Regions from separate parts of the Homo sapiens genome. Here all the other regions are linked to region 2. Evidence: fine-mapped QTL for protein levels in blood plasma. A gene starts in region 2. Each other region holds a variant in brackets. All regions are shown on one strand. Distances are between the middles of the regions. Region 1 overlaps MYLK4 (myosin light chain kinase family member 4). Region 2 holds the start of SERPINB9 (serpin family B member 9). Region 3 has its middle 11 kb from the start of SERPINB9.

What was found. PIP is the chance, under the fine-mapping model, that this variant and not a neighbour inherited with it causes the effect. Protein levels are from antibody-based Olink assays in UK Biobank. Linkage for the fine-mapping came from a reference panel and not from the study's own genotypes, which makes the PIPs less certain.
Region 1: its variant is fine-mapped to the plasma level of the SERPINB9 protein (UK Biobank, PIP above 0.99).
Region 3: its variant is fine-mapped to the plasma level of the SERPINB9 protein (UK Biobank, PIP 0.98).

The regions. Positions count from the first base shown.
Region 1 is chr6:2,742,339-2,750,499 of GRCh38, reverse strand. It overlaps MYLK4 (myosin light chain kinase family member 4), which reads left to right. Exons shown (of 13, transcript NM_001012418.5): 2 at 1,094-1,364. The coding sequence starts at 1,206. Among named protein-coding and RNA genes, the nearest start is that of MYLK4, 4.5 kb to the left of the region's middle. The variant G/A (reference allele first, on the strand shown) is at 1,745.
Region 2 is chr6:2,898,754-2,906,925 of GRCh38, reverse strand. SERPINB9 (serpin family B member 9) reads left to right here and starts at 3,617. Exons shown (of 7, transcript NM_004155.6): 1 at 3,617-3,725; 2 at 6,305-6,482. The coding sequence starts at 6,315. SERPINB9-AS1 (SERPINB9 antisense RNA 1) reads right to left here. Exons shown (of 5, transcript NR_110841.1): 3 at 7,807-7,897; 4 at 6,870-7,010; 5 at 6,250-6,443. RefSeq lists silencers at 3,422-3,471, 3,572-3,651, 3,892-3,941 and an enhancer at 3,652-4,153.
Region 3 is chr6:2,910,365-2,918,547 of GRCh38, reverse strand. No RefSeq gene overlaps it. Among named protein-coding and RNA genes, the nearest start is that of SERPINB9, 11 kb to the right of the region's middle. RefSeq lists an enhancer at 1,624-2,166. The variant G/T (reference allele first, on the strand shown) is at 4,027.

The DNA.
Region 1 (8,161 bases), 160 kb after region 2:
AGAAATAGCCATGCATTTGTTTCCTTATTTTAATAATTTTTTCAGGGCAATTTGAAAGAATGCTAAGAATGATCTGTAATATATCTGTAGAGCTCTGGTTGATAGTATTAATATTTGCATTTTTATTTGTTTGAATGTAAGCTCTTTATGTGGATAAGTATAATTTGTTAGAGCAGTGAATTTTAAACACTTTGGAACTCAAGAGTATCATTTTACTATAGGAACTGACAAAACAAAATATTAAGTTTTCTGATGAGAATCACAATACGGTTTTTAAGCGGAGAAAATGCTCGAAGAGGCGCTTTTCGGAAAATCTCCACCAGGGGGCCTCAGTTGTCAGCCATGCGGAACTAGCACAAATTCAAATGTCTCTCCCTCTCCCTGCCTCTCTATGCAATCAAGTGATGTGTACATATAGACATGCGTATATGTCTCTAGTATCAAAGCGAATTATGTATGCTGCATTACTTCATTTGCGAGGAAAGTATTTTAAGGAGAGTGAAAAGACTCTGAACTTCTCGGTACATAGCTGTTAATGCAGATGCAAGGAAAGGTATCTGGGAGTGCTGTCCACGTGAGAAGACTGTAAGGAAATAAATTTCTTTTCACAAATAAACACCACACATTTTAAGGCATAGGTAGAGAAGAGTTCTGGAAAAGGACTCATTCGGGAGCGATCCCTCTGCAGAGGGAGGCCAGGGGAAGCAGAGAGACCCCTTCTGTGATAAGCCCTTCCCACGGGGCTGCAAAACCTGCGGTTCCAATTAAACCCAAAGATACTTTATAATTTACATCCAAGCTGGCCACTTGATCTACGGCTTGTTTTGTGCAATAAGGAGCATATTTCATCACCAGTGAATCTTGACATTGCTTCTTACTGTTTGCTTTTGTAGTTTTAAAGTGAAAAAATTTTTTTTCCTTTTAAAGTTCCAATGTTGGAAACTCAATATGAATGTTAGTATTTCTTTTCCTGATTTTGGATCCTCTCTCCAGTTTAAACAGAAGGGACTTCCAAATTCTCACTGGTCATTTTCTCAAGAAGTCAAATGCATGAATACGTGATGAGAACTTTTTGTGTTTCCTTTCTTTGCAGTCAAGAGAAAGAAGCACTGAAGAGTCATAATTGTGTCCTGATTTATAAATCGGAGACAGAGGGAGACGAAAACCACACTCCAGAAAGTAGCTTAATCGGACTCACTACTAAGATGTTAAAAGTGAAGAGGCTGGAAGAATTCAACACGTGTTATAACAGCAACCAGCTGGAGAAAATGGCCTTTTTTCAGTGCAGGGAAGAGGTGGAGAAAGTGAAGTGTTTTCTGGAAAAAAATTCTGGGGACCAGGATTCAAGATCTGGACATAATGAGGTAATCATGTTCTAATTTAGTCTCCTAAAAAGTATTCATTCTATCTTATCTTTTCTAATGTCATGGAGCCGCTTGTGAGTACAATTAAGGAAAGTTTATGAATAGGCATCATTCCACTTTGCTTCAGTGAGAATTGTGTGTGTCGACTATACAATTGTGTTTGGTAAATAATTAGGAGGCCTTTGAAACTGCATTTCTGCCAGCAGTCGACTTCACTTTTAGTTAGTGGCTTAGGAGTTATACAGCCAGCTTGCAGAAATGAAGAAGAATCCTTTAGCATGATGGATTTGGGCTTGAAATTCAGAAAAGGGCTCTGAGAGGCACACTGTTCTGCAGAAAGAAGTTTCTCCTTTTTCCTTCAGATCTTGAGTTCCTCACGC[G/A]GTAGACAGCAGAGCTGTTGATAGTGAAGTCCAGAGAAGGGACAAGAAAGACTTGCTGATGGCACGACGGTGGGGCTTGTACCCTCCTCTGTGCAGAACGAGAGTTCTGAGCCCCATTCCAGCTGCTCGTTCTTGGGAAAAATATTAATTTAACCAAGGGCTTGCCACATCTGAATTAGTGAGATAATAGCAATTGTGAAAATTAAGTGTGATCACGTCTGTAAAGCACTCCGCCTAGTATCTGTCACTAGAGTCAGCATTTAATATGTGTTAGCGGCAGCAGCAATTACCTCCCCTGCCTTGGCCCAGTCAGTTCCTGCCCATCATCCGTTGGCTCCTTGCCCGGTGGGAGCATCAAGCATTTTGCCCGTGCCTTCATTCCAGCACATGTGGTGGTTTTGAACATGTTGATCACCTTTCTCTAGACAAGGCTCCTTAAGGTTGGGAAACCTCGTGTTATTTGTTCATGTTTCCTCAGTTGCTTTCCTAGTAACGGAAACAAATAGGCACCAAAAGTGTTTTTGGAATGCACAGATCTATTTAAGTGAATTCTGGTTGAGGGCTGGGAACCATTATTTTTGATAATCAGAGCAAGTGATTCTTATCAGGCAGGTTTGGAAAACATCCTTCTTTGCCCAGCTACTGTTCTAAAAAACACTATTCAGGTAGGAAGGGCGTTTCTAACAATGCAATAGACAATGAAATAGAGAGATTGTATATAAAAGGTCTAGGAGGCTTTTTATTGTAAGTGAATAAGAAATGACAAAATGTGCTGGAGAGAATAAATGAATCAGATTGAAACATTTTTTTGAGACCTCTGCTTTCCCCATGAGTTCAATATAGACCAAGGAGAAATATCTACAGGCAAAATTAAGTGAGACATGACTTTCTCATTAGGGTTTTCAGTGGTACAAACAGGATAATTTTTTCTGTTTATTAATTTCGGTAGGACAGAGAAGACAAAATATTCTTCTTGGAGAACTTTGAAATCATCAACTAACTGTAATAGTTTATATGAATTTCATTATCTTTCAAGTACTGTTTTTCTCCAAAATCTATGATACAATTTTTATAAATGGGCAACACTCTAAAGAGTGAGATAAGCAGGACACATGGCTCATACCTGTAATCCCAGCACTTTGGGAGGCTGGGGCAAGAGAATCACTGGAGGCCAGGAGTTTGAGACCAGCCCAGGTGACATGGTGAGATGTCTATTTCTACAAAAATAAAAAAATACAAATAAAATAGCGGGCATGGTGGCACACATCTGTAGTCCCAGCTACTTGGGAGGCTGAGGCAGGAGGATTGCTTGAGCCCGGGAGTTCAAGGATGCAGTGAGCTATGATCACACCACTGCACTCCAGCGTGGGCAACAGAGGAAGACCCTGTTTCTGAAGATAAAAAAAAAGAGTGCGATAGTGCTAAGTTGGAACATAAATATATGTAGGGATGTTACTTTTGTGCAGCCAACTACATCCAGAAGTTGATGATTTGGAAGTTAAATATTTTTAGGGTGTTTTTGAGGGAAAAATTGAGACTGCTATTTAACCCCTAGAAACCATCAGAGAATGTCCTTTATAGTAAGTCTCATATCCCTTCTGTAACTTGGGCCTCCTGGCTTCCGTCCTGCAGTTGACACCCTGTGGAAGGTGGGAAGGAATCACTAGGAGCTCCATGTGTCCCATTCAATTTCTTACTTGTAAATGGAGAAGGGCCTAGAGATGTCTGCAATAAATTTCCCTGTCTCTCTCCGTCCACGTGGAGAATGGATAGGTGCATGTGTCAGAGGCACAGAGTTCTCCTTTCCATGGCCTGGAGCCCCTGCCTGCCTAGTTGGTGGGTGCCAGGGCAGCCAGCAGGCTTGGCAGCGGGTGGGTGGAGAAGGACATTCCAGCAGCTCAGATGTCTTCAGGTATGCAGACAGAGCTAGATTAACACGTCTTCATCTTCTGCTGGGGCAGCAGTAAATCTTTAAAATGCCACGCTTTTCTCTCCAGGGACTATAAAAACATGCTTGTCGATTTTCTCCACCTATTCCCCTTTCTCTCTCATCCCTTCTCTCTTTGAGGGGATTAGCACGGCTAATCATAGTAGAAACATCCCCTGTGGTGCACTGGAAAGAATGTACTCTGAATTTCAGACTCTGGTGACATGAAAGCTTTGTTCTGGAAGCTTGCAGTGCAGTTTCTTTAGAGTCTGGAACTACTCTCCAGTCCCAATAGGGGAAGAATTTTATATAGATTTAACAACTTATATTTGTTAAAATAGTTTGATAAAACTCAGATTCTTTTTGTTTTCCTGCTCTTAATCAGATTTTTCTATTTCTTTTATTTTTCTTCTACTGAATTCATTTTTAGCCATCTTCCTTCTTTCCTCTATGTTTTACTGAGTTTATGAAACACTTCATAGCCTTCTTTTCTTCCTTCTACTTAAGTAGTTCTTGTTCTTTTAATTTTTCTTTCTTTCTTTTTTTCTTTTTTTCTTTTTTTGAGACGGAGTCTTGCTCTGTCACCCAGGCTGGAGTGCAGTGGTGCGATCTCAGCTCACTGCAACCTCCGTCTCCCAGGTTGAAGCAATTCTCCTGCCTTAGCCTCCTGAGTAGCCGGGATTACAGGCGCACGCAACCACGCCTGACTCATTTTTTTTTATATTTTTTTTTGTATTTTTAGTAGAGACGGGGTTTCACCACATTGGTCAGGCTGGTCTCAAACTCCTGACCTCATGATCCACCTGCCTTGGCCTCCCAAAGTGCTGAGATTACAGGCGTGAGCCACCGTGCCCGGCCTTGTTCTTTTAATTTTTCTTGTTTGTTTGTTTCTTTTTTTTTTTTTGAGACAGCTTCTCACTCTGTCGCCCAGGCTGGATTGCAGTGGTGTGATCTCAGCTCACTGCAGCTTTGACCTCCCTGGCTCAAGTGATTCTCCTGCCTCAGCCTCCCAAGTAGCTGGGACTAGGCATGCACCACCACCCATGGCTACTTTCTGTATTTTTTTGTAGAGACAGGGGTCTCCATGTGTTGCTCAGACTGGTCTTGAACTCCTGTGCTGAAGTGATCCTCCCACCTTGGCCTCCCAGAGTGCTGGAATTACAGGCATGAGCTGCTGTGTGTGGCCTATTTTTCCTACTTTCCTTTTTATTCTGTTTTCTAATGACTTTTCTTATTCTATTATGTTCCAAAGGCTGTTCAAAATCACCTAAATTCTACCTACTGTGTAAAATTTTAAAAGTTTTCAGCAGATAACCATATGCCATAATAAACTAGATCTAAACATACGTACACGGTGTGGTGTTGAAATCAAGTAAAATTTACAAGACCAAATTGGTCTGACTCATATGAGTGATGAGCTCGATAGCTACTGTGTCCATACCATTAAGTTATAAATGATGAACAGGTTTCATAACTATAATTAGTATTATTTTTGTACAGTTGAATCTGGGTTTTTTTTCTTTTGTCAGTTCTCTGTTATCTATATAGTAAATAGCCCTCGTGTTGTATTTCCCCCAGATTTACTTGAATATTTAGTAGGATCTCTGTCTCATATACACCCCCACACCCCTTTGCTTAATGAAACACAAATGTGCCTGGTGATATTCTCAGCCAACCATTCGGCCCTGCGTGCTTCTCACTGCTTTCCTCGGTGTACCACCCCCATCCCTGCTCCTGAGGCCCGGGGTTGTCTGTGCTCTCCTCCTCCTCCGTTGGTTTTCCCCACCTGCCTGTTCACCCCTAGTTACTCATCCTCCATCCAAAAGGCATGGTCCCAAGTATAAAAGTAGGACACAGGTTGTGAATGCTCACTCTACAAAAATATGTCAGCATAGCCCACCGTTCCACATCCGCGCCTGGAAGACCCCTAAGCAAATCATTTCTGAATTTATCCTAACCCTTGTTGATTTGTGTTTGAAAGCCTTCCTTCATAGGGAATAATTCCTTTTTAAAACCTGGCTTAAGTTCTTCCATATCCCAACCAGGGGGTATCCCAAAGCTGTGGGGGTAGAAACAAGCATGGCCCCAGCAGACTCGGGACCCCACTGTCCCTGGAGTGTTTAAATGCCCGGTACAAATGCTCCCAAGACCAAGCAAAGCAAAATATTTATTAACAGGATGTGCAGAGGGACAGTGGGTTGGAGTAAAGTGTGGATTTTCCTATTTTGATTGCAGTTGGTGGATTTAACACCAGGTGGCATTTCCTGACCATCTGCTGTGAAATTGTACCATCAGCACCATCCGTAATGACTATAACTTAGATCTCAAAATAACAAGGCTGAGGGCAGAGGTTTTGTGATTTTTCAAGTTGCATTTCGCCACCTCCATCCCTGTGCTCCTCACCCTGTAAGGGCAGGAGAAAGCTCCCTGGCAGTGGCCCAGCCTCGGCAGCCAGCAGTTGCCAGATACAGTGGTGCTAATTGTCCTTGAACTGGGAACAAATACGCATTCACAGCGTCGTAAATTATTGCCAGCAGTCTCCCAATGCCCCTACACCTGTTTCAGATCTGTCACACAAGGCCATCGTATTTTTCCTTTTAAAGAGGCAGATTATTTGCTGATCACGTAACTGGAGACGTCCAGTGCAGGACTCTGCAAGAACCCTCTGTAATTCGGTGACACCCACTCCTCAGGGCAGAGCAAAGGGTGACACTGCTTGAGAAGTGCTGGTGCTAGATCAGGGCAGGGAAGGAACATATAAGCCAAGCAACATCCACAGCTGCTCCCAAAGAATGGACTTCACACTCAGAAGAAAAGACGTCTGGGTTGTAGGTAGCGTGTGCCTTCTCTCGTCTTCAGTTCTCTGGTGCTTGATCCGGTTCGTGATGACCCGGGGAGGCCACTGGCAGACTCCTGCTCTTGAGGACGTGCAGGTAGTAAAATCACCTTTATCTAAGACAGATTCATTTTGTTCGAATGTTTCCAACCTGGGAGTGACGCTTGCCAAAGTAAATGGAATGCATGCCCTGGCTGAATCTTTGCCCAGGGCCCTGGTCTTAGGGGCAGTTGAGGTAATAATAGTGGCATGTGGCACATTTCAAACACTTGCACCAACTTTTGGGGAACCTCACGGGCAGGGATTCCCTGTGCATATTAAAGTTAGTGATCTGTTTTTGTTTGTGAGAGCTAAAAATAATGTCCGTATCTCTTCCTTCTCCTACTTCTTATATGACTTATGAAAAGAAAATAAAACAGAAGCAAAAGTGCTTCTACTCTTACTAAGAAATCGATTGCAAACACAGCACCTGCAGTGATCAGCCCTTCTGAGCATAGCCTTCTCTGCTTTCTCCTTTGAGCTGTCGCCTGATAATGCATTTCATGTAACACCATAGCTATTCCAGGAATGGAATTCAGTCAGAAGCGTAGCAGAATTCTGGAAGAAGACAAATAATTCCTATTCTAAGAATTTTAGCACTTTTCAAGAGAGGGTATTCATTTTGGGGAAGACAGCTCTTTGCACATATTTGACTCTCTTATCAATTAGCATATGATAAATTATTTTTAAAACAATATACAACAGTTTAGAAAGCACTATGGAAAACAGTCTGAATCATTGTTCCTGTCTGAAGGTGGGTTTATGGCGGTGTTTCTCAGCCTTGTTTTCATTATCATCCACCCCCTCCTAGACTTTTTAGGGTTTTTTCCCCTTAGTTGACTCCTCCCATTAAATTTTAATACCACATGTATACTGCATAGCTGTTGATGCATTGTTTGTACCTCTGTGCTTTATACGTAAAAAGAGTAAGATTTTCTTCACATGCCCCCAGAAGAACCAATTTTCATTCCTTTGGGGTGCTATTGCCCCATTGACAATGCATGCAGTTAAAAAAATTTCTCTAGGGGAGTTAGACAATCTATCCCTACACCTGTGTATAAATGCCTTATTTATTTATTTTTATTATTATACTTTAAGTTTTAGGGTACATGTGCACAATGTGCAGGTTTGTTACATATGTATACATGTGCCATGCTGGTGTGCTGCACCCATTAACTCGTCATTTAGCATTAGGTATATCTCCTAATGCTATCCCTCCCCCCTCCCCCCACCCCACAACAGTCCCCAGAGTGTGATGTTCCCCTTCCTGTGTCCACGTGTTCTCATTGTTCAATTCCCATCTATGAGTGAGAACATGCGGTGTTCGGTTTTTTGTCCTTGCGATAGTTTACTGAGAATGATGATTTCCAATTTCATCCATGTCCCTACAAAGGACATGAACTCATCATTTTTTATGGCTGCATAGTATTCCATGGTGTATATGTGCCACATTTTCTTAATCCAGTCTATCATTGTTGGACATTTGGGTTGGTTCCAAGTCTTTGCTATTGTGAATAGTGCCACAGTAAACATACGTGTGCATGTGTCTTTATAGCAGCATGATTTATAATCCTTTGGGTATATACCCAGTAATGGGATGGCTGGGTCAAATGCC
Region 2 (8,172 bases):
AACATTGAGCTCTGCGGATCCTCAAGTCCCTAATATAACATGGCGTAGTGTTTGCATATAACCTATGCAAATGTAACCTGTGTAACATCCTCCCATACGCTTGAAATCATCTCTAGATTATGTATAATACCTAATACAATGTAAATGCTGTACAAATAGCCGTTATACTGTATTGTTTTAAATTTTGTATTATTTTTTGATTTTTTAAAAAATTTTTCCATCTGCAGTTGGTTGAATCTGTGGATGTGGAACCTGAGGTACCGGTGGCCAAATGTACAGTGTGCTAATATAAAAATTAGTAAAGGAGGGTTAGGCTGTCCTGAGGCTCGCAGTCCGGTGTGGGAGACAGAAGATTTAGTGGAAAGTCCCTGTGGAGCTTAAGTGTTGGGCTGGGCCATTCTAGGGGTGTTCAGGGCACCTTGGAAGTACCTCAGTGTGCTCGCCGTCTCTCCCTCAGACTGCTGCCCTCTTGGGCCAGATATTGTGTCTTCAACTTGGTACCAAGTTCCCAGCAAGTGCCAAGCCAAGCCCATGGCAGGAAGCGAATTATTTTTTGTTAACTGAATGCATGAGTCTTAGAATGGAACCTGACTGTGTCACAAGCATGATAGGAACATGTTGGGGGCAGGGAAATGTTTTCAAAGTTGTGGAAACCTTTGCAGAATGAATAGGGCCACGCTCCATATTTTGCTCTTTGCAGGACTTTAAGGAAGTGTGTCAAATGCCCACAGGTAGAGCTGGAAAATGTGGCCTTTGCTAAAGATGCAGAAGAGTCTAGAGACGCACAACGGCTGGGTCATTGGTGGTGAGGGACTTTATTTGCAGTGAACTTGGAGCTAGGAAGGAAGTTACTGCTGGGTGGGTCCTCAGTGACGGAGGTCTGCTTACACGTTTGCCAGGTTTTCAGGCCAGCAACATGATTCTGTCATTTCTCTTGGGCTTGTCTGATCATGAAGTAGTGATTTTTGAAAAATCCTTGGACCTGGTGTGAGGATCAAAGACTCCCTTCCTCCGGACAGTGTTGGAAAATCCTGGAAAAATGCTTCCTCTGGGGCCCTGTGTATTTTCTATCTGGGAAAACCATGATGAGCAATCAGATAAAGAAATATTTTTGTGATATGTTGTGACTTTCTTAAAGTAATAAAGTAGAAGAGATTTTAAATGAAAAATATAGGTAATTGCAAAATCTCTTGATTCTTAGCTATTTCTGAACAGATTTCATGCCCCACCCCCCCATACAATTTTTAGTGGGGGAAAGAGGAGAAAGGAAAGGAAAAGCTAAAATAACCTTGTTTTCATAGTTCTGTGTTTTTATCCTTTCCTAAACCCATTTTCCATCGCTGGTCACATGATTTGGATTGAAAGGACGTTTCCTCTAGGCCTCGGAGCACAGAGGCAGCTAACATGTTTGCACTATGCCATCATGGTCCACGTTTACTCAGACACTTTCTTGCAATGGCACTGACAACGATGCCCCCATTTGTTGCCTTAAAATTCATGGGTATGGCCAGGCACAGTGGTTCACGCCTGTAATCCCAGCACTTTGGGAGGCTGAGGCGGGAGGATCACCTGATGTCAGGAGTTCGTGACCAGCCTGGCCAACATGGTGAAACCCCATCTCTACTAAAAATACAAAAATTAGCTGGGTATGGTGATGCATGCCTATAGTCCCAGCTACTTGGGAGGCTGAGGCAGGAGAATCGCTGGAATTGGGAGGTGGAGGTTGCAGTGAGCCAAGATCACGCCATTGTTCTCCAGCCTAGGCGATAGAGCAAGACTCCACCTCAAAAAAATAAATAAGTGGATAAATAAATAACAGCTTTTTGTTTAATCAATTGTCTCTATCATTATAAAGTTTTCTATATCATTGATTTATTCTCTAATCTTTATTATTTCTTCTTTTCTACTGATTATGTGTTCAATGTATTTATACTTTTTCTAGTTTTTGAAGGTAGAAACTGAGGTCATTGATTTGAAGCCTTTCTCCTCTCCTAATATAGGCATTTCATGCTGCAAAATTTCCCCAAAGCTGACTTAATAACATCCTACAAATTTTGATGTTTTTATTTTCATTTTTTATTAATTTCAAAATACATTCTAATTTCCCTTTTGATTTTATAATATTTTTATAAGTATTATTCAGTTATAAAAAGAAATAAAGTACTAACAAATGCTACCTGGAACCATCAAGAATGACCCTTGAAAACATTATGCTAAGTGAAAGAAGGCAGTCAGGAAAGACCACATATTGTATGATTCAATTTGCATGAAATCTTCACAGTCGGTCAATCCGCAGGGCCAGAAAAGAAATCTGGAGGTCGGAGCCTCTCCCAGAAGCCAGGGGTTGTGGGAAGGAGGAAATGGAGAATAATTGCTAATGGGTATCACAGTTCCTTTTAGGGTGATGAAAACCTTCTGGAGTTAGATAGTGGTGAGAGTTGGACAGCTTTGTCAATATACCAAGAACTATTGAATTGTATGCTTTAAAAGGATGCATATTATGGTCCGTGAATTGTCTTTTAATAAAGGTTTTATTTTTAAAAACAAGCTAGGCACCTAGGGTGTCAAATTGAAGGAGGCTCTGATTCTCAGGGCCGCGCAAATGCAGGGTTGGCACCTATGCGTGTGGCCCTCCTGAAATTTTGTGCCTTAGGCACCTGCCTTGCTTCTCCCTAATTCAGGCCCTCAGGAGAAAGCTCTAATTCTGGTCAATTTGAAACAGGAGGGCACGGCTTCTGGGCGACGCTCCGTGCTCCAGAGAGAGCCATTTGTCTGTTCCCTTCCTCTGGACGTCACCGTGCCAACATGAAATGCTTCCAATTGAGTCCAGCCTGAGATGGAAGGGGGTGGGGGGATATCTGATGACATCACGAACTGCTGCATCAACTCCCCCGAGTCCCTGCCTCTGGACCCCCTGATAGAGGACACAAGGAGTGTCCTGAGCCCGTGTGACTCAGTGTCTCTTCCCATCACTTTGCGGGAAAATGGGGCTGCTTACACCACACCGCAGCCCAAACACCTGTGGCTAGAGAAGGGCTTGGGTACTAGGAGTGAGGACGCCTGGTTCTGGGCCCAGGACTAGTACTAGTTAGTGGTGGGACCTGGAACAAATGCTTTGGTTCTAAGTGAATCCCCCATATTCATGACAAGAGGCGTGGAACACAGACCCATGGGACCTTCCCACTGGAACACGGAGCTTGGCTGTCACCCGACCTTCGCTTCCTTAAGTACAAAAGCCCAGGGTTCCAGGCTCCGTCTCCTTTCCCGCAGACGCCTTGTTTCTTCGCGCGGAGGCCCTGGACGCCGCAGGCTCCCAACCTACTTCTCTGGGCTGTCAGGTTCTGAACCCGGTCCTGAAGAGGCCCTGGCGCCGGGGGTGGGTGAGGCCGAGCGCGCGCCTTGGGAACCTGGCCGGCCTCAGGCTGGCGGGAGCATTGGCGGACATCGCCCCGGGCGGGGCGGACTGGGGGGACCCTGACCTGACCCTGCTCCCAGCTCTGACCTCGGCCACCACGCGCGGCGCCCCCGCTGGTCCCGCCAGGCTCCGCCTAAACGCAGAAAGCGTGGGAGGCGCCCGACCCTGCGGTATAAAAGCGGTGCCTGCAGAGGCCCTAGCGGGAGTCCGCGGCGAGCGCAGCAGCAGGGCCGGGTCCTGCGCCTCGGGGGTCGGCGTCCAGGCTCGGAGCGCGGCACGGAGACGGCGGCAGCGCTGGACTAGGTGGCAGGTGAGGGCGTCCCCGCGCACGGCTGGGGTAGGGGACGGGAGTGGCGAGCTTCAGGTCCACCGGCTGCCACCGAGTGATGGGACCGGAGGACAGGAGAGGTCGCTCAGCCAAGAGCCCCGGGGAGGCGGTGCCTTCTCGGTGGGGTCAGCAACGGTCTCTGGGGGGTGCCTGGGAGCGGCAGCCGGTCTCCGCCTTGGCGGCCCACAGCCACCGCGGACGCCTCCCTCCCGGATGTCTCCTCGCTGCCCTTCCCTGGCCGAAGCCCTCCCCTGCAGCCTCCTCCCCACCTGCCGGCCCTGTGTTCTCACTGCTCTTCTCTGCTCTGGGATCCGCAGGATGACGTCTGTCCTGCTTCTTCACTGTCCTTTACAGTCACCAGTCTCGGCCGGGCGCAGTGGCTCACGCCTGTAATCCCAGCACTTTGGGAGGCCAAGGCGGTCGGATCCTTGGAGATCAGGAGTTCGAGACCAGTCTGGCAAACGTGGTGAAAACCGGTCTCTACTAAAAATACAGAAATTAGCCGGGCATGGTGGCCCACGCCTGTAATAATGTCAGCTATGTGCTGAGGCAGGAAAATCACTTCAACTCGGGAGGCAGAGGTTGCAGTGAGCTGGGATTGCGCCACTGCACTCCAGCCTGGCAGACAGAGTGAGACTTCGTCTCAAAACAAAAAAAAGAAAAACACAAAAAAACCACCACCAACAACAACAAAAAAATAAAGCCACCAGTCTCGGAGTTTCAAATCTGAGCACTCTTATCCATCTTAATTCTTTCAATAATTCAGCTAAACGAATGGGGTCCTGAGAATCTGCAGAGCCAGGCTCAGCGCTCGCCTGCAGAGCCTGCGGTCTGTGGGGACCACCAGCAAGATGAGGAATCACCTTCGGGAGGAAGGGTCGTGCTGGGGAGGGTCGCGCCGGCGGGGTCAAGAGAACCTCCTCCAGGGTGGGAATCAGAGCCTCCGGGCCGCGGTGTTTGAGGGTGAGTGGAATTAATGCCGTGATGGACATGGGGCCTTCTAAGGGGGACCAACAGTGTTTGTGAAGAGTTGACTTTGGGAGGGGTTCAGGATGGCCAGAGGTGGAGGCTGTGACCTCAGTGAGTCTGGATCAAGGGAGGGGGCAGGTGGGTAAGACACCGTTTTAACAAGGTGGCTTTGAGCGGCCACCTTTGAGGGGCCTAAGGGCCCCTGGGAGATTTAGGAGGAAGGACAAGAGGATTAAGACACCGCTTTCTGAGGTGCCGTGTGGCTGTGGCGTGGGGGTGGCTGGGGGAGTGGGTTGTGTTCATTGTCCAAGGCTCTCCAGCGCTTTGCGTGGCGTTTTGGGGAGCACAGATGAGGTGTCCCGACAGTGGGGAGTGGCTCTAGGGAGACCAGAGGCTCGGGAGGGGGCCTGGGCATTAGACCAGGCACAGAATCCGAAGTGGGAAGAAATGTGGGCGTAGAGGGCAGGCCTTGGGGATGGGTGTGGGGGAGGAGGGGGAGATGGAAAGGAGTCAGGGAGGTCTCCCAGGCTCACCTGGAGGAGTCAGGGTCTCATTTCCAAGTGCACTGGGAACTGCAGCCTGGGGGTGGGGGTTCATTTGGTTTCAGGCCTGTGGCCAAGAGACCCACCCCCTCACATTCACACTTTGGTCTCCAGTGGCTTCACAGGCACCACCTCCTTGTTCTCGCCTGTTTTACTCCTCACCTTGGGCTGTTTCTTGCCTTTCCATTCTGGCGTTCTGCAGGGATCAGATCCTTCCTCTCACGCACAATCTACACTCATGGCTTTTGCTGGGAGTAATGAGTAAAGCTCCCAAATAGATGTTTCTGAGTTAGGAAGCACATTAAAAACAAAACAAAACGAAGCAAAACCACACAATTGTCCAAGTCCCACTCTGTGTTCAAGGGTCACATGATGTGCAGAAGCTGGTGATGGGCAGGAGCTCTGAATGGAGTTACTGGGATGTCAGGCCGCGTGGGCCTGGGGCAGGCTGGCTGACTGGGAGCAGCCTGGCTCCACCCCGGCTGTCCAGGACGCACTCACTTGCCTCTATGGATGACAGCTCCTTGCCTCACAGCTGTCTGTCTCTGGGTCAGATTCAGCATCTCAGTGTCTTTTGTGTATCAGCTGAATGTCAGGGAGGCCACAGGCTGGTGCCCAGTTGAAAATCTCACAAGGACTCTTTGTAAATGCATGCAAGAATAAGAACAGCATTTTCCTCCTCCTCCCTGACCCCATTCTCCTCCTCAGATGGGACGATCTGGTCCTTACGGAAAGAATTGGAGTTCACTGCTTCCAGCTCTGTGTGTGTGTGTGTGTGTGTGTGTGAGAGAGCGAGCTCTGCAGGCGAGCCAGTTCTGTTGCTATTGCTGGTTTGAGCTGCTGCCATCACCACACTTAGCTAATTACCTTAACATTTGCACTTAATTTTTGGCCGGAGACTAACAGAAAATAAATTTTTCTCCAATTTAAAATACTTACGAACTTTAAGAAGAAAACAAAAAGTACGATTCCAAAATTGCCCTGTAGTAAGTAGGTCAGTAACATTCAGGGAGTGTGGAAACTGCATTTCTCTTTATTCTTCCCTTCCAGGCCCTGCATCATGGAAACTCTTTCTAATGCAAGTGGTACTTTTGCCATACGCCTTTTAAAGATACTGTGTCAAGATAACCCTTCGCACAACGTGTTCTGTTCTCCTGTGAGCATCTCCTCTGCCCTGGCCATGGTTCTCCTAGGGGCAAAGGGAAACACCGCAACCCAGATGGCCCAGGTAAGCTTGCCCGTCCGCCAGGAGCAGGGACTGGCCTGGGCTGCGTGTTCTGTCACCAGCTTCACACTCACACTCCAGAGCCACTGAGAAAGGAGGGCAGGACTGGGGCCCGAGTGTGCACTGGCCGTTTCAGGGAGGCGGGGTCCACTGGGGAAGAAGTGGGGCAGGGCAGGGAGGCAGGAACTCTGCTCCACCGAGATTTATTTGGGGGAAACTTTCCTCGGTTAATCCCTTGGAAAAGACCATCCAAGCTGTCTTGTCCTAGCGCAGAATCTTTCTTTAGAAAATGACACTGAAATTATTTGAAACATAAGTTGCAAAGAACTACCTCTTTTTTGGAGCAAGAGACTTTGTAACTAAACTTTCATTGGTAAGGAAGGTTAATACCTGTTTCAAGTTGTTTCTGTACCAACAGCTCAGGGAGGGCATCAACAGAAATTTGCAAGAAGGATTCCAGGGCAAGTGCTTCATTACAGCTGCACACTGTGCAGGTACTGCTCAGCTCAGTCTCACCAACATTCAGAGAACCTGTGGAAATGATTCAAGATCAGTGCTTGTCCCCAGACCTTTGTGGAAAGGAGAGGAGACATACACGTGAGATGAAACCGAAAAGCGCCATCCCTGAGTGCAGGCCGCTGGACACGCCTTCATCATGGGAGTTGTCCTTTGTTCAATATGACTGTCTTTTTCTTTGATGACGCTTTTCAATAGTGAATTACTCATTTTAATAATTTCCCAGCTCATTGTGTGAAGAAGGGAGGGTTTATGTGTAAAGGCTACCAGCCTTAATAATAAGCACAGAGAGGCTCTCTAAAAGATATATATATTTGGAAATAGGGCATTGCAATGAAAATACGCATGCCATGGCAAGCTATGTGCACATTCAGGGAGGTGAAATAACACTAAGATTTTTAAAGGAAAAAGTAAAGAGGATTACATAATTCCTTTGAAATAATTATTTTTGGCAAAAAGATCAATAACGAAGGTGATGTCAGTGTGAGGTTGGATGGGGAGTTCCTGGGTAGATGTCCTTGCACAAGTATTTTGTTGTGTAAGGCTGTGATGGCCTTTGTGCAAGAGCGTAGGTTTTTAGAGTCCTTTGTGATAGTTGTGTTATCAGGCATTCAAGCGTGAGAACCCTCTCTTCATGGCCTTCCCTGTCTGTTTGTCAAAGGTTTTTGGTTTTGTTTTTTTAATATTAGTGACTCCATTTTGATTCTGAAGTTCCTTATGCTGAAATCTGTATGATCTTTTTCTATGTTTTAGGCTCACTGATAAACCCTTATAGAAAGCTTTTTTGAGAGCACCAAAATTGTCTGGGTACCTTCTTAGGTGTGAGACTGAGCTCTCTCCATGGCTCCAGTGTTCAACTGGATGCTTGTGAGACACCAAACATACTGAGTACACGTTGCTACCTGTAACATGCAGGGAAGCGTTAATGGCAGCAGAAATATTTTAAAGAATTATTTATTTTTCCTTCATTATATAACTGGTAAAAGTCCACTATAAAAATTTTTAAAAAATAAAAGTAGAAGGGAGGAAAAAATCCCTATGAATCCATCAAACAGAGACAACCACCCTTGATAATGTAAAGCATCTTCCTCCAGTCCTATTTCTTTTTTTTTTTTTCGAGACAGAGTCTTGCTCTGTCGCCCAGGCTGGAGTGCAGTGGTGCGATCTCAGCTTACTG
Region 3 (8,183 bases), 12 kb before region 2:
CTGGCCTTCTGAGAAGGCCTAAATTCCTGGGAATGCAGCCCTGTAGGTCCCAGCCTCATTTTACCCATCCCCTGTTCAAGATGGAGTTGCTCTGGTTTCAACTCCTGTGACACTACCTATATTTATATTTGAATATCCTGGGCTGTCTTTGCTTACAGGGGCGGTTGGGATGTCCCACGTGCCTCCAGTGGAACACCCCCACTCCCACTGGGCTTCCTTGGGTATAAATGTTGCTGGAGCCTCTCAGAGCAGTTCTCACCTCTGCCCGCCCCCTGACCTGTGCTAGTCATGGCAGCAGCTCATGTCCTAATTCTCCAGCTGCATCCTGGCAGCTGCAGTTCTATGGCCGTGGACTGCCGACAGGCGCCCTAGCTTTTCCACATCAGACGGCCATCCATATGGTTTCCCTAAAACTCCAAAGTAATTGCATCCTACATTTGTTTAAAAGCACTCATGACTCTCCAGACGGCAGATAGAGTTCAGATGCCTGAAACCGGCTGCCCTGCCAAGAGGGTTCCTGGGAAGTTTGGGGCTTCCCGAGGGTCTCGCCACTGCCCCTCTGACAGGAAACAGCAGACCCTGGCTCCCCCAAAGCTGGCTCTTCCTGCTATGGGTGAACATGTGGCTGACCCGCAACAGCAAATTCCTGTATGTGCCCTCCCCTCTGGCGTGAGTTCCAGATCATTTTCTTTCCCCACAAAAATGGAAGGGAAGGTCTGCATCGGTGCTCTTGGAATAAACTCATCAGCAGGAGCGTGTGTGGGGAGAGAGGAGTGCAGCCACCTTGCTTTTTTATGTGTAAAAAGGAAACTAGTTTGATGCCAATGTATGTATTTATTTGTTTTTTAGAGAAGGGGGTCTCATTATACTGCTCAGACTGGATTTGAACTCCTGGACTCAAGTGCTCTTCCTGCCTCAGTCTCCAGAGTAGCTGGGACTACAGGCTCACCCTACTGCACCCAGGCTGGAATTTCAATGTCAAGTTCAATGGCTGGAAATCAAACTTTTCCTATAGCAGTATATTTATGGTGCCATAGTGTTGTGGCGTGGGCACCCACCAGTATTGTTTTGTATGCTGTTGGAATGAATGCCTTCTAGATTTACTGGGAGAGGTCCATCCATGTCCAAAGTTCCAACTCTCTTACAATCTTTAATGTGCAAATGGGAGTGGAGTACCAAGAAGAACCTGAGGGGGCGGAGAAGAGAGTCGCCCTGTTGTCTCCTTCCAGCGTCAGCCTAACCATCAGTGTGAGCTGGGACACACCCCCAAGGCACACTTGTGTGTGAGTGTGTGCATGTGTGTGTGTCATTGCTATGGGGTAGATAATGACCAGTACCTACAGGCTGGAAAGGAAAGAGGTGAGGAAGTGAGAGGGAGGAAGAGGGAAGACAGGAGAGGCCAGAAGTACGTGATTGTAAGGAATTAAGAGCAGTTTAATGGAGAGTCAACATTGATGGGTACTCCAGTTCATTCCTTTGCCTGTTCCGACAGGATGATTATACACACACACACACTCCAGCCTAGGTTTATGACTGCCTCACCTGGATGGTAAAGCTCCACTTGCAGGTAGAGTCCAATTCAAATGTTATTTGGGTCTCTGTCATCTCTGTTTTCTCATCCTCATTGAGTCTCTTTTGCTAATGCCATCCCTGGTGGGCCAGTGCCCTCAGTGTGAGTATTTCTTCTGGCTTCCTAGCCTTTTATTTCCTTCAAGAGTAAGGTGAGATTGAGCATGGCAGAAGCAGCCTGGACACAGACCAGACCCTGCTGTGCTGGAGACACTACAGACACCAACCTTCTAGCAGCTGCTGCCCTGGAAGGCTCCCCAGAGGCTTGATTATTTGAGGACAATGGATGAACTTTCACATTTTGTTCTAGAATCATGACCTATTATGTGTAGGGTACTGTTGTGCAAATATCACTAGATGGCATTTTCTTGGCTGACATTTTCACTCATTGAAATGTAAAAGAATTTGCACTGATTGGCCTGTTTGTTGTTCTGTATGTAAAAATGGCCTTCACGCCTTTTTTAAGTGTGAGGCACTCCCTTTTAAAAAATATTTTAGCAGAAAGCTAAAACAAAACATCTGACAGTGGAGGTGCACTCTTTGAAATAATTGTCTCCCATCTCCCGCCTCATCCACTCAGCTCCTTTTCCTTCCCATCGTGCCCCTGAGAGACTCAGAAGACCCCTGCTAAGGCTTAAGGGAGTATAGCCTCACAACTGCAGGGTGAGGCACTGCAGTCCACTGGTGATGTGGAAGAAGCAAGATCAGGGGATGATACCCTGTTTATAAAAGTCAGCACATGCATGATGATCCTTATCTCTGCATAGAGTTTTCTGTAATTCTTGCTTTGCATATTTTCTAATTTTCCAAATGGAAACATACATTTCTTATGTGGCTTTAAAAAATGTGAGCAAAATATACATGCATATGATAAAAGAGAGGATAACATAATATAGAAAAATAGCTTGCAGGGTTATTGGATTGTGGATGATTTGTCTCTTCATTTCCTAAAATGTCCTCAATAGTAACAGCAAAGAGACTTTGGGAAACAGAGGCACATGGATGAACTTTAATATTTTATTGAATAGTGACCCAGCCAAAGAGAATCCTACTCTACTATTATTAGGTAAGGCTTAATAGAAAGATATAATTAGGCCAGGTGTGGTGGCTCACGCCTGTAATCCTAGCACTTTGGGAGGTCAAGGCAGGTGGATCACTTGAGGTCAGGAGTTCGAGACCAGCCTGGGCATCATGGCGAAACCCCACCTCTACCAAAAATACAAAAATTAGCTGGGTGTGGTGGTGCAGGTCTGTGGTCCCAGCTACTCGGGAGGCTGAGGCAGGAGAATTGCTTGAACTTGGAAGGCAGAGGTTGCAGTGAGCCGAGATCGTGCCACTGCAGTCCAGTCTAGGTGACAGAGCAAGCCTTTGTCTAGGAAAAAAAGAAATAATTAATGTTGGACTTATAAAAATTTGCTAAAATTATAATAACTGATAGTAACCTGTAGTAACTTTTGATTTAGTAATAAAGTTTCTCTCAGGCACATCTTTTCCTTCTACCTTCCAGGGTGCACATGGGTGATCCAGCCACTCTCACATGGAAGCATACCTCCTGGACCTGCCCCAAGTGATGTGTCGACTGGCCCCAAATCAACACCTCCAACTCAAGTTTCCACGTGGGATTTGGGCTTCATATTTGATGTCTATGCCAAGGCTGCCCTGGACAGCTCCCTAGCCTAGTTTCAGCAACTCCGGGGGAAGTGGTACCTCTCTGTGGACTCTCCCAGATTTAAAGTAACTGTCTCTTCAACATAGCCCTTATTTTACATCTCAAATGGACCCTTCAGATTTGGTGAGATCTGTCCAGCTGTTTCACATGACATGGTGACAGAAATGTAGTTTTTAGTTTTATTTTTTAGAAATGTAGCTTTGGCCCGGCACGGTGGCTCACACCTGTAATCCCAGCACTTTGGGAGGCCGAGGCAGGTGGATCACCTGAGGTCAGGAGTCCAAAACCAGCCCGAACAAGATGTTGAAACCCCATCTCTACTAAAGATACAAAAATTAGCCGGGCCTGGTGGTGCATGCCTGTAATCACAGCTACTTGGGAGGCTGAGGCAGGAGAATCACTTGAGCCCGGGAGGCAGAGGTTGCAGTGAGCTGAGATTGCGCCACTGCACTCCAGCCTGGGTGACAGAGTGAGGCTGTCTCAAAAAAAAAAAAAAAAAATGTAGTTTTTATTTACAGAGAATTACATTCTTTATTCACAGAACAGTGGTTACAAATTATATTAGTGACACCAAATTGGGAAGGAGCTAGCAGCAATCGGGATTTTATGGAATGATCAAGGATGCAGGCTGTGGAATCAAATCACAGTTTCCAACCCTGACTTCATTGACACCAACCACCTAGGAGATCGGGAACAAACTCAGTCTCCTCATCTTGGTGGGTACTTACTGCAGGGCCTCGGTGTGTGATAGTGAGGGTTAGCTGAGAGGCACATAAAGAACTTAGGGC[G/T]GTGCCTGTTTGCACTAGGGGCGGGTACAGCCAGCTGGTCTCTGAGGGTGCCTGTGAGCCCTGCAGCAGTCCTGTTGCTGAGGCCCCATATTGGCTACTCTGTGACTAAGCCAGTGTATTCGTTTCCTATTGCTGCCATCACAAATTACCTCAAACCTCAAATGGCTGAAAACAACCGAGCTTTACACCGTACAGCTCTGAAGTCAGAACTCCAAAACGGGTCAGCTGGGTTGATTCCTCCCAAGGCTCCGGGGAGAATCTGCTTCCTGGCCTTTTCCAGCTCCTAGAGGCCGCCTGTGTTCCATGGCTTGTGGCTCCGCATCACCCTGACCTCTGCCTCTGTCCTCACGTCTCCTCTGGCTGTGGCCCTCCTCCCTCTCTCATGAGGACCTGTGATCACACTGAGCCCACCCAGATGATCTATAAGAATGATTTGTGATCCTAATGTCTAAAAATGGAGTGGCTTGTGTTATGTGTGTAAACCAAAAATAAAATTCTAAGCCCTCAGTCCTCTATATGGACCCGTCCTCTCGGTAAAGGCCCAAAGCTAACTTGCAAACTAGTTCAGGCCATGATGGGAAGGGGAGCCGGACATGCCTCATTATGCAGTCTTCCGTTTTGGAATTACTGATAGAGCAGACTCTTTAAGTCTGATAAGAAACATTTACGGTTTATTATGTCTCACACCTGCTACCTGGAGGCTTCACCTGCATGATAAAAGCTTGGTGTCCACAACCCCTTATCATCATCCAGACATTCCTTTCTATTGATTCAGAAAACCTCTGGGTTTGCCTATGACCTGGAAGCCCCTGCTTCCAGTTGTCCTGCCTTTCCAAACCAAAGTACATCTTACACGTATTGATTGATGTCTCATGTCTCCCTAAAATGTATAAAACCAAGCTGTGTCCTGACCTTGGGCACCTGTTCTCAGGACCTCCTGAGGCCGTGTCATCGGCATGCCCTTAACCTTGGCAAAATAAACCTCTAAATTGATCCAGACTTGCCTCAGATACTTTTTGGTTTTCAAGTGGCATGAAGCCCACAGTGAAGTTGTTTACTCCTTAAAGTGGTAAGCGTATGTGTACTAGACTGAGCCTGAGCTCATAGTAAAGTTGTTTTTCTTTAAGGCGATAAACATATGTATAAGAGATGAGATTACATTTGCTGTGGCATGTACCACTTGAGACCCAAAAGGAACCGATAGAAAATGGAGCCAAAAGGTGGCTGAGATGATGATGACGGACACACCTGGGGAAAACCATAAAACCAGCAAGGAACTGACACTGTCAGAGGCACCTTGAGAATTCCTGCCTGTAGGAGACATCACACTCTGGGGACTGTTGTGGGGTGGGGGGAGGGGGGAGGGATAGCATTAGGAGATATACTTAATGTTAAATGACGAGTTACTGGGTGCAGCACACCAACATGGCACATGTATACATATGTAACTAACCTGCATGTTGTGCACATGTACCCTAAAACTTATAATAGAAAAAAAAAAGTGCCTCCTCCCGGTGAGACGGGCTGCCCAGAGGCTCTGTGTGAGAGGAGTGTCTGCTGTGCTGGCCTCCTCAGCCACAGCCTGGGTTTGCCATTCCGCTCATTACTGCCTTTAGTAATTGTATCATGTCATTCCCATCACTCACAGGAAAAGAAACAATGAAAAAAATAATTGTATTGTGAATGTTTGCTCGATTGATTGGGTATGTGTGAGTCTCTGGCAATAAACCATATTTAAGCATTGCAAATTGGCTACCGGGTCATTGGGAAACCTGGCTTTGATCTGAGCACACAGGCCAGAAGAACCTGATTACAATAACATTTAAAATGAACATAATACCAGATAACCAGCACGTCTCCCATCTCAAGATTCTTAACTAGAGGGACCACATCGGCAAAATCTCTTTTGCCATGTAAGACAGTCACTGGTTTTGGGGATTAGGAGGTAAGACATCTTTGGCAAGGGGCATTATTCTGCTGGCTACACCCCAGTGTTCACTGACTGGGGACTGACGACTAGGTGGCCATAGAGGGCTTGGTTGATGTGCTTCTGATCCAGACCTTCCCTGGTGGATGAATTCAGGTGCAGATGGCACTTTTTTTTTTTTTTTTTTTTTTTTTTTGGAGACAGTCTCACTCTTTCACCCAGGCTGGAGTGCAGTGGTGCAATCTCGGCTCACTGCAACCTGCACCTCCTGGATTCAAGTGATTCTCCTGCCTTAGCGTCCTGAGTAGCTGGGATTACAGGTGTGTGCCACCACGCCTGGCTAATTTTTTGTATTTTTAGTAGAGACAGGATTTCACCATGTTGGCCAGGCTGGTCTCGAACTCCTGACCTCAAGTGATCCACCCGCCTCAGCCTCCCAAAGTGCTGGGATTACAGACGTGAGCCACTGCGCCCTGCCCAGATGGCACTTTTGCCAGCAGTTTATTAAGGAGGAGGGTGATGAGAGCAACTCATGAAATATGTTTTTCTTGCCCCTGAGCATCTCCTCTGCCATGGCCATGGTGCTCATAGGGACAGGTGGAAATGTACCTATCACATGGGGAGAATGATGGCATGTTTTTCTCCTGTGCTTCCACAGAGGGGCCTTTTCATACCTTCACATCAGCCGGTAAAAGCTGGGGTGGCCTGTAGGTGGCAGGAAGGACCTCATGATAGCACATGGCAGAAATGGATAGAAAGGTGAACTGTGCAGGATGGGGAATCTCCTGTAGTGTTTGTGGGAGAAATCAAGTGATGAAGTTATTTTCTCTAGACAAAAGCATCCATAAATCACAGCAAAATTGCATCTTTGATAAGGTAAAGCTACAATTCTATTCCACAAAAAGACAATTTCAATTTTTTGTTTTAAACTTTTGCTAAATGTGTTTAAAATAGAATTGCAGCTGTAAATGAACCTTCCATAAAATGGGTTATTTTTAGTGGATGATAATGAATACGTGAAAAAAGAAAAAAACACAAATGAGAATGTATATCTTCTGGAGCTTAGAGGGCAAATATATTCTGACTGCCCCAAAATGGATGATGGGAACCATATGTACAAATGAGGTAGTGGGCACTGCTTTAGGGAAGCAGTCCTTAACCTTTCTGAGTCTCAGGTTTCTTTGATGATCTGGGGAAGTGTCTCGGCGTGTTACCACCTGTGCAATGTTGTGCAAGTCACATTAGTGGTGTCTGGCTGACCTCTCGAACTGCATCCACAGACCTCAGCTGAAGATCCCCCTGCAGCTGTTTCTTCCAGCTTCTGGTGGAAGGGCCGGTGATAGAGGAACAACCTTAATTTTCACTGTGGCTTGACATTTAAATCACAGTGTTACCTGGAGAACTTCTGTAAAATTACTGGTGAAACATTTTCAGTTTTATGTCTGCTCTTTCTTGTGTTCCCTGGGGCCAGGTTAGATTTAAACCTGAAGACTCATTTTTTTTTTTTTTCTGTTCTGTTTTCCTCCTGTTATCAAGGCTTCCTAGCATGAATAAATCTGCCAGACCCATGGTTCTCACCTAGGGGGCAACTGTGCCCCGGCCTGGAGGACATTTGGCAATGTCTGGAGACATTTTTGGTTATCATCATTGAGGGGTAGGTGTGCCTGGCATGGAGGGGGTGGAGGCCAGGGATGCTGCTGAATGTCCTGCACTGCACAGGACAGCACCCAGTGCAAAGAATGATCTGGCTTCACACATCAGCAATACGTCAGTTGAGAAACCCTGCGCTAGACAATTAAAGCATTTCGTTATAGGACCCTACCTAATTTTTTGTGTAGAGATTCATTTGGAGGTCCCTCTTTAGGGGAAGTAAGAGGGCAATGTTCGAAGTTGGCATTGCTGTTTAATATTACCAGGCACTTTGTTTAAACAAAGATAACGACGTTCACCAAGACTTCCAGTCACTTCCCATTGAAGTGAATATATCTTAGAATCGCTGACAGACTTTGGAGAAAAAAACACGTTTTAGTAAGTAGTACTCAGAATCAATGAAAAGGAAAATAAAAGAGGAACTACAGAAGAGTAGAGAATACACACAATTCTGCTGCCATCACATGTACTTAGAATTGCACTTGTGTAATTATAATTTTTATTTATTATTTTTTTTTTGAGACAGAATCTCAGTCTGTTGCCCAGGCTGGAGTGCAGTGGTGCGATCTTGGCTCACTGC